Homo sapiens: one gene and its partner. The protein of the gene in region 1 interacts with the protein of each later gene in a biochemical or structural test. Each region holds a gene or a part of one and is shown in the gene's direction. Other genes may lie near its edges.

Region 1 (3,353 bases):
CTGGAGCCGACTCCTTCTTCCCAGGAAGCACAGAGGGCCCTGGGGACCTCCCCAGAGCTGCCGACGGGCGTGACTGGTTCCTCAGGGACCAGGCTCCCCCCGACGCCAAAGGCTCAGGATGGAGGGCCTGTGGGCACGGAGCTTTTCCGAGTGCCTCCCGTCTCCACTGCCGCCACGTGGCAGAGTTCTGCTCCCCACCAACCTGGGCCCAGCCTCTGGGCTGAGGCAAAGACCTCTGAGGCCCCGTCCACCCAGGACCCCTCCACCCAGGCCTCCACTGCGTCCTCCCCAGCCCCAGAGGAGAATGCTCCGTCTGAAGGCCAGCGTGTGTGGGGTCAGGGACAGAGCCCCAGGCCAGAGAACTCTCTGGAGCGGGAGGAGATGGGTCCCGTGCCAGCGCACACGGATGCCTTCCAGGACTGGGGGCCTGGCAGCATGGCCCACGTCTCTGTGGTCCCTGTCTCCTCAGAAGGGACCCCCAGCAGGGAGCCAGTGGCTTCAGGCAGCTGGACCCCTAAGGCTGAGGAACCCATCCATGCCACCATGGACCCCCAGAGGCTGGGCGTCCTTATCACTCCTGTCCCTGACGCCCAGGCTGCCACCCGGAGGCAGGCGGTGGGGCTGCTGGCCTTCCTTGGCCTCCTCTTCTGCCTGGGGGTGGCCATGTTCACCTACCAGAGCCTCCAGGGCTGCCCTCGAAAGATGGCAGGAGAGATGGCGGAGGGCCTTCGCTACATCCCCCGGAGCTGTGGTAGTAATTCATATGTCCTGGTGCCCGTGTGAACTCCTCTGGCCTGTGTCTAGTTGTTTGATTCAGACAGCTGCCTGGGATCCCTCATCCTCATACCCACCCCCACCCAAGGGCCTGGCCTGAGCTGGGATGATTGGAGGGGGGAGGTGGGATCCTCCAGGTGCACAAGCTCCAAGCTCCCAGGCATTCCCCAGGAGGCCAGCCTTGACCATTCTCCACCTGCCAGGGACAGAGGGGGTGGCCTCCCAACTCACCCCAGCCCCAAAACTCTCCTCTGCTGCTGGCTGGTTAGAGGTTCCCTTTGACGCCATCCCAGCCCCAATGAACAATTATTTATTAAATGCCCAGCCCCTTCTGACCCATGCTGCCCTGTGAGTACTACAGTCCTCCCATCTCACACATGAGCATCAGGCCAGGCCCTCTGCCCACTCCCTGCAACCTGATTGTGTCTCTTGGTCCTGCTGCAGTTGCCAGTCACCCCGGCCACCTGCGGTGCTATCTCCCCCAGCCCCATCCTCTGTACAGAGCCCACGCCCCCACTGGTGACATGTCTTTTCTTGCATGAGGCTAGTGTGGTGTTTCCTGGCACTGCTTCCAGTGAGGCTCTGCCCTTGGTTAGGCATTGTGGGAAGGGGAGATAAGGGTATCTGGTGACTTTCCTCTTTGGTCTACACTGTGCTGAGTCTGAAGGCTGGGTTCTGATCCTAGTTCCACCATCAAGCCACCAACATACTCCCATCTGTGAAAGGAAAGAGGGAGGTAAGGAATACCTGTCCCCCTGACAACACTCATTGACCTGAGGCCCTTCTCTCCAGCCCCTGGATGCAGCCTCACAGTCCTTACCAGCAGAGCACCTTAGACAGTCCCTGCCAATGGACTAACTTGTCTTTGGACCCTGAGGCCCAGAGGGCCTGCAAGGGAGTGAGTTGATAGCACAGACCCTGCCCTGTGGGCCCCCAAATGGAAATGGGCAGAGCAGAGACCATCCCTGAAGGCCCCGCCCAGGCTTAGTCACTGAGACAGCCCGGGCTCTGCCTCCCATCACCCGCTAAGAGGGAGGGAGGGCTCCAGACACATGTCCAAGAAGCCCAGGAAAGGCTCCAGGAGCAGCCACATTCCTGATGCTTCTTCAGAGACTCCTGCAGGCAGCCAGGCCACAAGACCCTTGTGGTCCCACCCCACACACGCCAGATTCTTTCCTGAGGCTGGGCTCCCTTCCCACCTCTCTCACTCCTTGAAAACACTGTTCTCTGCCCTCCAAGACCTTCTCCTTCACCTTTGTCCCCACCGCAGACAGGACCAGGGATTTCCATGATGTTTTCCATGAGTCCCCTGTTTGTTTCTGAAAGGGACGCTACCCGGGAAGGGGGCTGGGACATGGGAAAGGGGAAGTTGTAGGCATAAAGTCAGGGGTTCCCTTTTTTGGCTGCTGAAGGCTCGAGCATGCCTGGATGGGGCTGCACCGGCTGGCCTGGCCCCTCAGGGTCCCTGGTGGCAGCTCACCTCTCCCTTGGATTGTCCCCGACCCTTGCCGTCTACCTGAGGGGCCTCTTATGGGCTGGGTTCTACCCAGGTGCTAGGAACACTCCTTCACAGATGGGTGCTTGGAGGAAGGAAACCCAGCTCTGGTCCATAGAGAGCAAGACGCTGTGCTGCCCTGCCCACCTGGCCTCTGCACTCCCCTGCTGGGTGTGGCGCAGCATATTCAGGAAGCTCAGGGCCTGGCTCAGGTGGGGTCACTCTGGCAGCTCAGAGAGGGTGGGAGTGGGCCCAATGCACTTTGTTCTGGCTCTTCCAGGCTGGGAGAGCCTTCCAGGGGTGGGACACCCTGTGATGGGGCCCTGCCTCCTTTGTGAGGAAGCCGCTGGGGCCAGTTGGTCCCCCTTCCATGGACTTTGTTAGTTTCTCCAAGCAGGACATGGACAAGGATGATCTAGGAAGACTTTGGAAAGAGTAGGAAGACTTTGGAAAGACTTTTCCAACCCTCATCACCAACGTCTGTGCCATTTTGTATTTTACTAATAAAATTTAAAAGTCTTGTGAATCAATATGGGTGATTTCTCTGGGGACAAGTGCAGCAATCAGGGCTTCGGAGGGGAAGGAGTGGGGCAGGGCTGGGGGCAAGACCCCTTTCAGCCCCGGAGACCCCTATCTCCAGTTCACCTGGGGCAGAAAAGCAGACATTTTTACAGTCAGCAAGAGAAGAAGCACCAGGGATTAGAGTGAGGAGTGCCGAGCCCTCAGCCCAGCTCTGTTCTGCCCGGCTGTGTGATGTTGGGCCAGGGCCCTCACCTCTCTGGGTCTTATAAATGTGAGGCCTCTCCTAGTCTGGCAGGACTCAGAATCCCTCATGAAGCCCTACCCCATGCCTGCCGAACCACCATCCCAGGGGCCCTAGGACCACTCTCAGTGAACTGGTGCCCCATGGGAGGAAACTGGCCCATAGTTTCCTCTTTGTGGCCTTCCTGGTTCAGATGAAGATCAAAGAGGGATTACTTCTTAAGGGACTTGGGAGTTCATAGATGTGCCCCAAGTGTGAGCCTCGTGGTGGCCCCTAAGCTCTTCAGTGTTCTGGGAAGCTTCATAAGAGCTGTTGTGTACA
Region 2 (7,298 bases), on another chromosome or scaffold:
GAAGAAAAGCTGTATCATATGTCTTTAAACATCTTCCTAGACCACCTTTGTTTTCCCCTTAAAGTGTGCTTAAGGAGAAAATGGAAAGTCTCTTTTCAGTGTGTTGTATTTTGTTTATTGCAAAATACAACACACTGAAAGAACAATGTCTGGGTTAGCAAAGTATTAGATTTAATTTCCCACATTACTACCATCCAGGCTGAGAAAGAGAACCCCAGAAGCCTCTCTCATGTCCCTTCCTGACCACAGCCTCTTCCTCTCCCACAAAGAACCACAAGTCTGACTTCTATGGTGATCACTTCCTTGCTTTTCCCTATAGTTTGACTGAATCTAAATATCATCCCTAAACAATATAGCTTAGCTTTGCCTATTTTTGATCTTCATATTTGGATTCATACTTTTTGGTTTGGCTCAAGACTAAACTTTTAAAATGCATCCACGTTGTAGGAGATGTACATGCACAAAAATTTTCACGGCAACATTGTCCAAACTAGCAACAAACTGAAAGCCACCTATGTGTGCATTAGCAGTAGAAATGGCAATAAATCATGGACTAGTCACACAGTGGAATCCTACGCAGCAAGGAGAATTAGCAGTCTACAGCCAAACCAACAGCATGGGTGAGATGCTTCCAGAAATACTGAGATGAATTTAGAGATAAAGGCACAATTGGTCCATATCTACAGGGCACTTAATCCAGTGCATCTCCACTAGACAAAATTTGTATTTCCATGAGCAAGAGTCATTTGCACTGCTATCTGCTATAACCTACGGTGCTGTAAAATTAGCTCAGGCAATAAAAGGGGGAGGTAGCCCCAAAGAGTATGCCAGAAAGGACTCCCAGTAATCTTCAGTGTGTGTCTATTTCAAAGTCTTTCATCATTTTTCCTTGTAGTTACTTAGTGTGGAATTTCAGACCCCTCTCTATGTCCCTCTTCTCCCTTTTCAGCCTTGGCTTTCTCTGCATCCTTCCCCGAAGCCCTGCACTCAGCCTAAACTGACTTTCCTGAACACTCTGGGAGCATGTGGGCTCCTCCCAACTCCACCATCTTCACTGCCTTCTGTTCCTATTTCCCTCTGCCTGGCCTTGGCCCCAGGAAACCTTCCTATGCTCAGACCCTCTGTGCCTTTGTCTTCAAAGCCCACCCACTATTCACTGCCACCTCCATCTTGGTCAACCTGGAAGACTTTCCCCATCCTTAAAACATCAGCTCAAACGGCAGATTTTTTTTTTTTTTTTTGTGATATCCTCTTGATCACCCTCCCCCAGTTTTTAAGGAGACAGATATAGAGGTTCAATCCTTGGGCTTCCCATGACTTTTCTTATATTCTGTTACTGAGCAATAATAAACACTTCTAGGAACTGTATCTTAAACACTTTTGCCTCTACAGAATCTAGCACAGTGCCTAGTATTGGTGAAATATAATTAACAAAGTCTTCTTTCAACACAGAGATTCTCTCCACAAAAGGAGTAGAGAAAGAACAGTTTTATTATGGAATAAGCAGTAAACCAAAATATGCAGAGCATTATAGGCCATCTACTAAGAGGTTGCAAGAACAGAAAGAAATCTCCCCCTTTTGTATAGCCAAGTAGATACAACCTGTTACATACATGTTATCAAGGCAAACAATAACTGTTCCTCAAGTAAGAGGTCTTGCCAGCACCGTTTGCCGTACATGGTTCACTCTAAATTTACCTGGTAATTAGGGTAACCACTTGTGTTAGCTAACTGGCTCTACCCAGAGGAAAATCAAATTTATCTTTAAGACAAGGGGTAATTTTGCAGCACTGAGCAAGGCTCTTCAGTTAGGCTCATACCTTCCCACAGAAACTAAGAGATAGAAGCACTATCTCCCTTAGGTTTGTTTACATTTCAAAGAGATGACGCCCAGGTCCTTGGGAAAGACTAGCTTAGCTCATAAAGCTGACAAAAAGCCTATCTAGTTTCAAAAGGATTTACACATGTTCAAAGAGAGGAGAAAGTATGTAAAAGTTTTCTAGGTGGGCACGGTGGCTCACACCTGTATTCCCAGCACTTTGAGAGGCTGAGGCGGGTGGATCACCTGAAGTCAGGAATTTGAGATCAGCCTGGCCAACATGGTGAAACCTTGTCTCTACTAAAAATACAAAAATTAGCTGGGCATGGTGGTGGGCGCCTGTAATCCCAGCTACTTGGGAGGCTGAGGCAGGAGAATCACTTGAACCCAGGAGGTGGAGGTGGCAGTGAGCCAAGATGGCACCATTGCACTCCAGCCTGGGCGATGAGAGTGAAACTCCATGTCAAAAAAAAAAAAAGTTTTCTAAAGTAAATGCTCTGAGAAAAAAACAGAAGGTGAGGAGATCTCTGTCCTTATTTTTAACAAGAATAATTAAATGTTTTTATTTTTAATTTCTACTTAGACTAGAATATGGTACAGATGCTCAAAAATATTGACTTAATTAATAATTAAACAATTAACAAGTCTATCTCTTTCCTAATTATTAAAAAAATTATGAAGTATTTCCCTTCAAAATTTCACAGTTTACTTTGACATAAATAAATAAATACCATAAAGTATTTTGAAGAGGAAAGGGAAGGGTGGGGCTTCAAACACAAAATAATGGCAGGTTTTGTAAAGGGGCAATTCACTAAACCCAATAGGATTCTCCTGTTGCTATTTTTTTTTTTTTTTTTTTTTTGGTGGTGGTTGGAGGGAAGGGTTGGGTGTGCATTTGGCCTGTGTGAAAAACTGGTGGGTAGACAATGCCATGCTGTTCTAGATGGGCTCATTGCTATAGGAATAGATAGTCACTGAATTTACTTGCATAGGGGATGGGGTATAAAATGTTTCCTTATAGCTCCTTAACATGGAATTCAGCACCCCTCTCCCCATCAGCCTTAGCTCTCTCTGAATCCCAAGGGATATGTGTTATAAAAATAGCTGCCATCATAAATGAGAAAACCATCAGGACCTGGTAAAACTTGGCTTCCCAAACAGTCAGGGGTCTGGGCATGGCAGCCGACTGAGAACCTTTCTATCTAGTACAAGGTAAACAAGATTTGCCAAGACTTGATCAACTGATCCAGCTCCCTATCTCCAAACAGAACCTCATCTGAATGCTCACAGGCTGTGCCCCAGAAGTGTAGAAGTGTCATGTTCCCTGGGCAGGCTGCTGGGCAGCCTCTCTGTTGACAATAGACCACACTTTTGCTGACCTAGGACTCATGTTGCTCTTTAAGACTGCTTCCTTGGCCAGGCATGATGGCTCACACCTGTAATCCTGGCACTTTGAGAGGCCCAGGCAGGAGGATCTCTTGAGGCCAGATGTTCAAGACCAGCCTGGTCAACATAGTAAGACCCCATATCTACCAAAAATAGCTGGGCATGGTGGTGCACACCTATACTCCCAGCTACTTAGGAGACTGAGGTGGGAGGATTGCTACATCCCAGGAGTTCAAGGCTGTAGTGAGCTATGATCATGCCACTGCACTCCAGCCTGGGCAACAGAGCGAGATCCTGTCTCAAACAAACAGTTTCCTTCTGTTTGATTCTTGCTGAAAAATTGAGCATGCCAGAGCTAGCAAGGCTCTTAGAGGTGGTCTGGTCCAATGCTTTAATTTCATACATCAAGAAACTGAAGCAGAGCAGAGTGACCTGCCCAGGGTCTCTCAGCCATTCATGCTCAGAAATGTATGGGCTCCTGTGAAACATGTGGCTCTTAAAAGCACTATCATATATTTGAAGGCAGAAAATAGGCTAAACCTTCAGCCTTCAGACTTTTCCTCTCCAGAGAAAATGACCCCAGTTTCCTCACTATGGTTGCTGGGAGCTAGATTCCTGGGGATCTGGCAGTGTGGACCACCTAGTGGTGGCTAGAGGAGCAAATAATATCCCGCATTCCATTTTCCACTCACCAATCCCTGAGGGGCAGCCTGCTGGGTTATGAGCCCACAGGGGGAGAACCCCAACGAATTCAGAGATGCATCATGGACCAGTTTCTCTTAAGGGGCCTGGGTCTACTATTTTCAGTTCTACTTCGAGAGAAGTGGCCTGCAATATCCTGCAGATTTCCCCTCCAGGGAGAAAAGCATTGTGCGGTGCAAGGAGCACAGGCTTTGTGGAAAGAGGCATCTGGGGTTGAGATCCTGGCTCTTTTGCTTCCTTGAACAAGTTAACCAAATCTCTGGGCCTCTGCTGGTTAATTTATACCATGGGGATCATCATTTCTCCAGTGGGGTTGTGAAGAGAATGTGGTGGGATCTTGTGTGTGGAGCATGACACTTAGCAGGCATCCGGGAATGGCAGCCTCCTCCCTTTCTAAACTGGGGCTTTCTGAGGGTGACTTCAGATTCCACAATGTCAACAGCACAATGGCATCCTCATAAGGAAAGTTTGGGTTGGGGCTCCTCAAGCAATTCTCTACTCTCATTTGGTACAAAGAAAAAAATTAAGCCTCACAATTTTCTTGGCACCAGACTGAACCTCAAACCCAGTCTTCACTTTTACTAAAAAGCCATAAACAGAGACCAGGAGGGTAAAAACTACCAGAAGATACACTGGATTTAGAAAACAGTAAGCTGGATGTGAAGCCAAAAGAGAGGGAGAAAGCAACATAAAAGAATGTCAGATTGAAGAAGAAATGGATTCTGGCCACCTAAAGAAGAAGGGAAGTATAGAAAAGGGAAGCTGATTGGAAACAATGGGTAATGATGAGTGTCCCTCCCCTAAAAAGTTAAAAAATAAATGAGCAGGCATGAGAAAAGGAAGTAGGCCAGAGGAAGTAGACCAGGATCAGCCACGGATGTGAGTGGGGAATTTTACAAATTTCTACTTGGGTGTGAAACATGTGTACACTCAAAGCTCTGTCTAGGTTCACCGAAACTCTCCCAGCTCAAGGCCATTTAGTAAAACCTTGGCTTAACTGAATAGTGGGTAAGGAGGCCTGAGGATGGCCCAGAGAAGGTTTAAATTCTTACTGGCTGCTGCACTAAGTTGTAAAGTGCAGCCTTAGTTGATGATGCCTTTATTAGTGCAACATCCCAGAATGCATGCGTCTTACAACCCTTGTGGATATGAAACCCAGCTGGGTAGACACTGCAAAGTCTTCTCATTTGATTCTTCCACTTGGTTTCTAGTGTCCCTCAGGGACAAAGGAAAGCCATGGTCCAGTCTAAGATGAAAACCAATTAGACCTCTGGCAGGCCTTTGACCACCCTGAGGGCCACCCCCAAGGCACGGCCACACTCGCATCTGCTGCCAGGAGGCCCTATCTTAGGCTCAGCTCCCAAACCTTGAACATCTTGGAGGATCCACAAATAGGAGGTACACTCAGCTCAGGCTCAGTCTTCCTTAAAAAGCGCCTTGCTAAAGCTATCAAGTTCACTGGAATACTTCTGCGAAGGACACAGCTTCAGCGATGTCAGATTTTTTATGTAAATGGTGCCTTCACATGCTCTGGGGCATTTGGCTACCAAGGGCGGTTTGAACTAGCTCCAGCACACAGAATACAAGTCTCTTCAGAACCAGGCAAAACCCTATGTTGCCCAATGACTCCTGCTGTTTCTTGAGATTTGCACAGAAGACAGAGCTGCAATTACCCACGCTGATATCTATTTCATGACCACATATGTTCAAAAGCCACATGTGAGAGGTATGGTTGAAATGAGAGGTTGTGTTTGCCAAGTTGTCTTCTGACTGTGGAGAGCTGGTGAGCCTCTTCTCATCTCCTGGGGCTCCATATTATAGAGCTGACGAATCTCTTTTCTTGCTCCTTGAAGTCTTTCATTCACTTATTTATTAATTCATTTAACACATCAGGCACCTACTAACTTCTCAGAGTTCAAGGCTTCCTAGCCTATGATCAGAAAGGACACCTGTGTGCTCATGAGCACCCCTGGGATCAGGGTGACTGATAGGGTGCTGTCATCACTACTAGATGAAACTCTTTGGAACAAAGGTCTAGGATATAATATTTATCCTTCTGCAAATATTCATATGGCATTCGCTGTGTACCAGGCCTTCTGTTGAACATTGGCCTGCAGAGCTGAAGAGGACGTGGGTCTTCTCTTAGGAACTCCTAGTCTTGGGAAAAAGGAATGGGGAAGGGCTGTAATGTGAAGTTAAAAAAAAGTGCTGAGGCCGAACACATCTGGGCCCTCACTGCAGCCCTATTGCACACACACTGCATCACCTCGAACAAGTTATTCACCCTCTCTGAATTCATCTATTTGCCCATAAAAATAGAGATGATCCTTTTATATGTTGGCTACCACTTATTATGTGCAGCATGCTTGTTATTGTACTAAGTTACTCATTTTTTAGTTTTTCATATAACTCATATTTTTGTTGATTTTTATTTTAAAATTCCAAACGAATTAATTAAACTATTTTCCAAAATACGTAGTATGTGTACATGGTAAAAAACATTTCCAAAAGTTTACCATAAAAACTGTCTCCTTTCCCATATCCTCAATCCTTCAGAATCCCTCTCCAGGGATAATTACCACCACCAGTGTATTCCTTAAGAGATATTTAAACTTTATACAAAATACGCACACATCATTCTTTTCCACAAATGACAGCATACTATGTACATGGTACCTCACCTAGCTTTTTTCACTTACCAGTATATCTTAGAGATTGTTGCATGACAGAATATACAGATCTGCCTGTTTTTGTTGTTTTTCCCAAGTTTCCAAGAGCTAGAAACTGTTTGGTTTTTAAGCAGCTGCTTGGTATTCCATTAATTGGACTTATCGTGCTTTGATCTGTCCCTAGTGATGGACATTGGGGTTGTTTCCCTTCATTTATATTTGAAGCTTGTTGCAGTGACAGTGTACACACTTGCTTGAGCATGTGTGTGTCTACGATAAATCCCAATAAGCAATTTAAAGTAATTTAATTCTTATGCTCTCAACAAACCTAAGAGGTTATTTTTTTAGAGGAGGAAGCTAAGGCTGTTGTTTTGATGCCTTTTTACCACTGGACTTGGGACTCAACTGTTTGATAGTCATCGAGTCCTTGACTCTTCTCCCCTGCCAGGATTTGGCCCCTAAGCCCAGGGCCCGAGTCTCCTCCATCTTCAAGGGAGAGTGGGAACAGCACAGGCCTTGGCCTCAGTCCTGCTCCCCCTGCTTCTAGCTGTGGGATGGGCCAGGTGCTTCACCCAGCTGTGCCTCCTGTGAGGCACAGTGTGTGCAAAATGGAAATGTGAACATGAAGATCAAAAATGTCCCTCAATGACCAGTGCTGTTCCTCAGAGTCACGTGGGAACTCATAGAAAGCGATATTGGTACTGCTCTTTCCTCTGTAGCAT

Evidence for each region.
Region 2: the proteins of CX3CL1 (region 1) and CX3CR1 are reported together in a solved structure, tested with the Homo sapiens proteins (one study listed by BioGRID).

Annotation. Positions count from the first base shown.
Region 1 is NC_000016.10:57,382,250-57,385,602, forward strand, and holds the end of CX3CL1 (fractalkine isoform 1 precursor), read left to right. Parts: coding exon 1-783; 3' UTR 784-2,795; downstream 2,796-3,353. UniProt on the Homo sapiens protein: Chemokine that acts as a ligand for both CX3CR1 and integrins ITGAV:ITGB3 and ITGA4:ITGB1. The CX3CR1-CX3CL1 signaling exerts distinct functions in different tissue compartments, such as immune response, inflammation, cell adhesion and chemotaxis.
Region 2 is NC_000003.12:39,269,865-39,277,162, reverse strand, and holds part of CX3CR1 (CX3C chemokine receptor 1), read left to right. Parts: intron 1-7,298. UniProt on the Homo sapiens protein: Receptor for the C-X3-C chemokine fractalkine (CX3CL1) present on many early leukocyte cells; CX3CR1-CX3CL1 signaling exerts distinct functions in different tissue compartments, such as immune response, inflammation, cell adhesion and chemotaxis.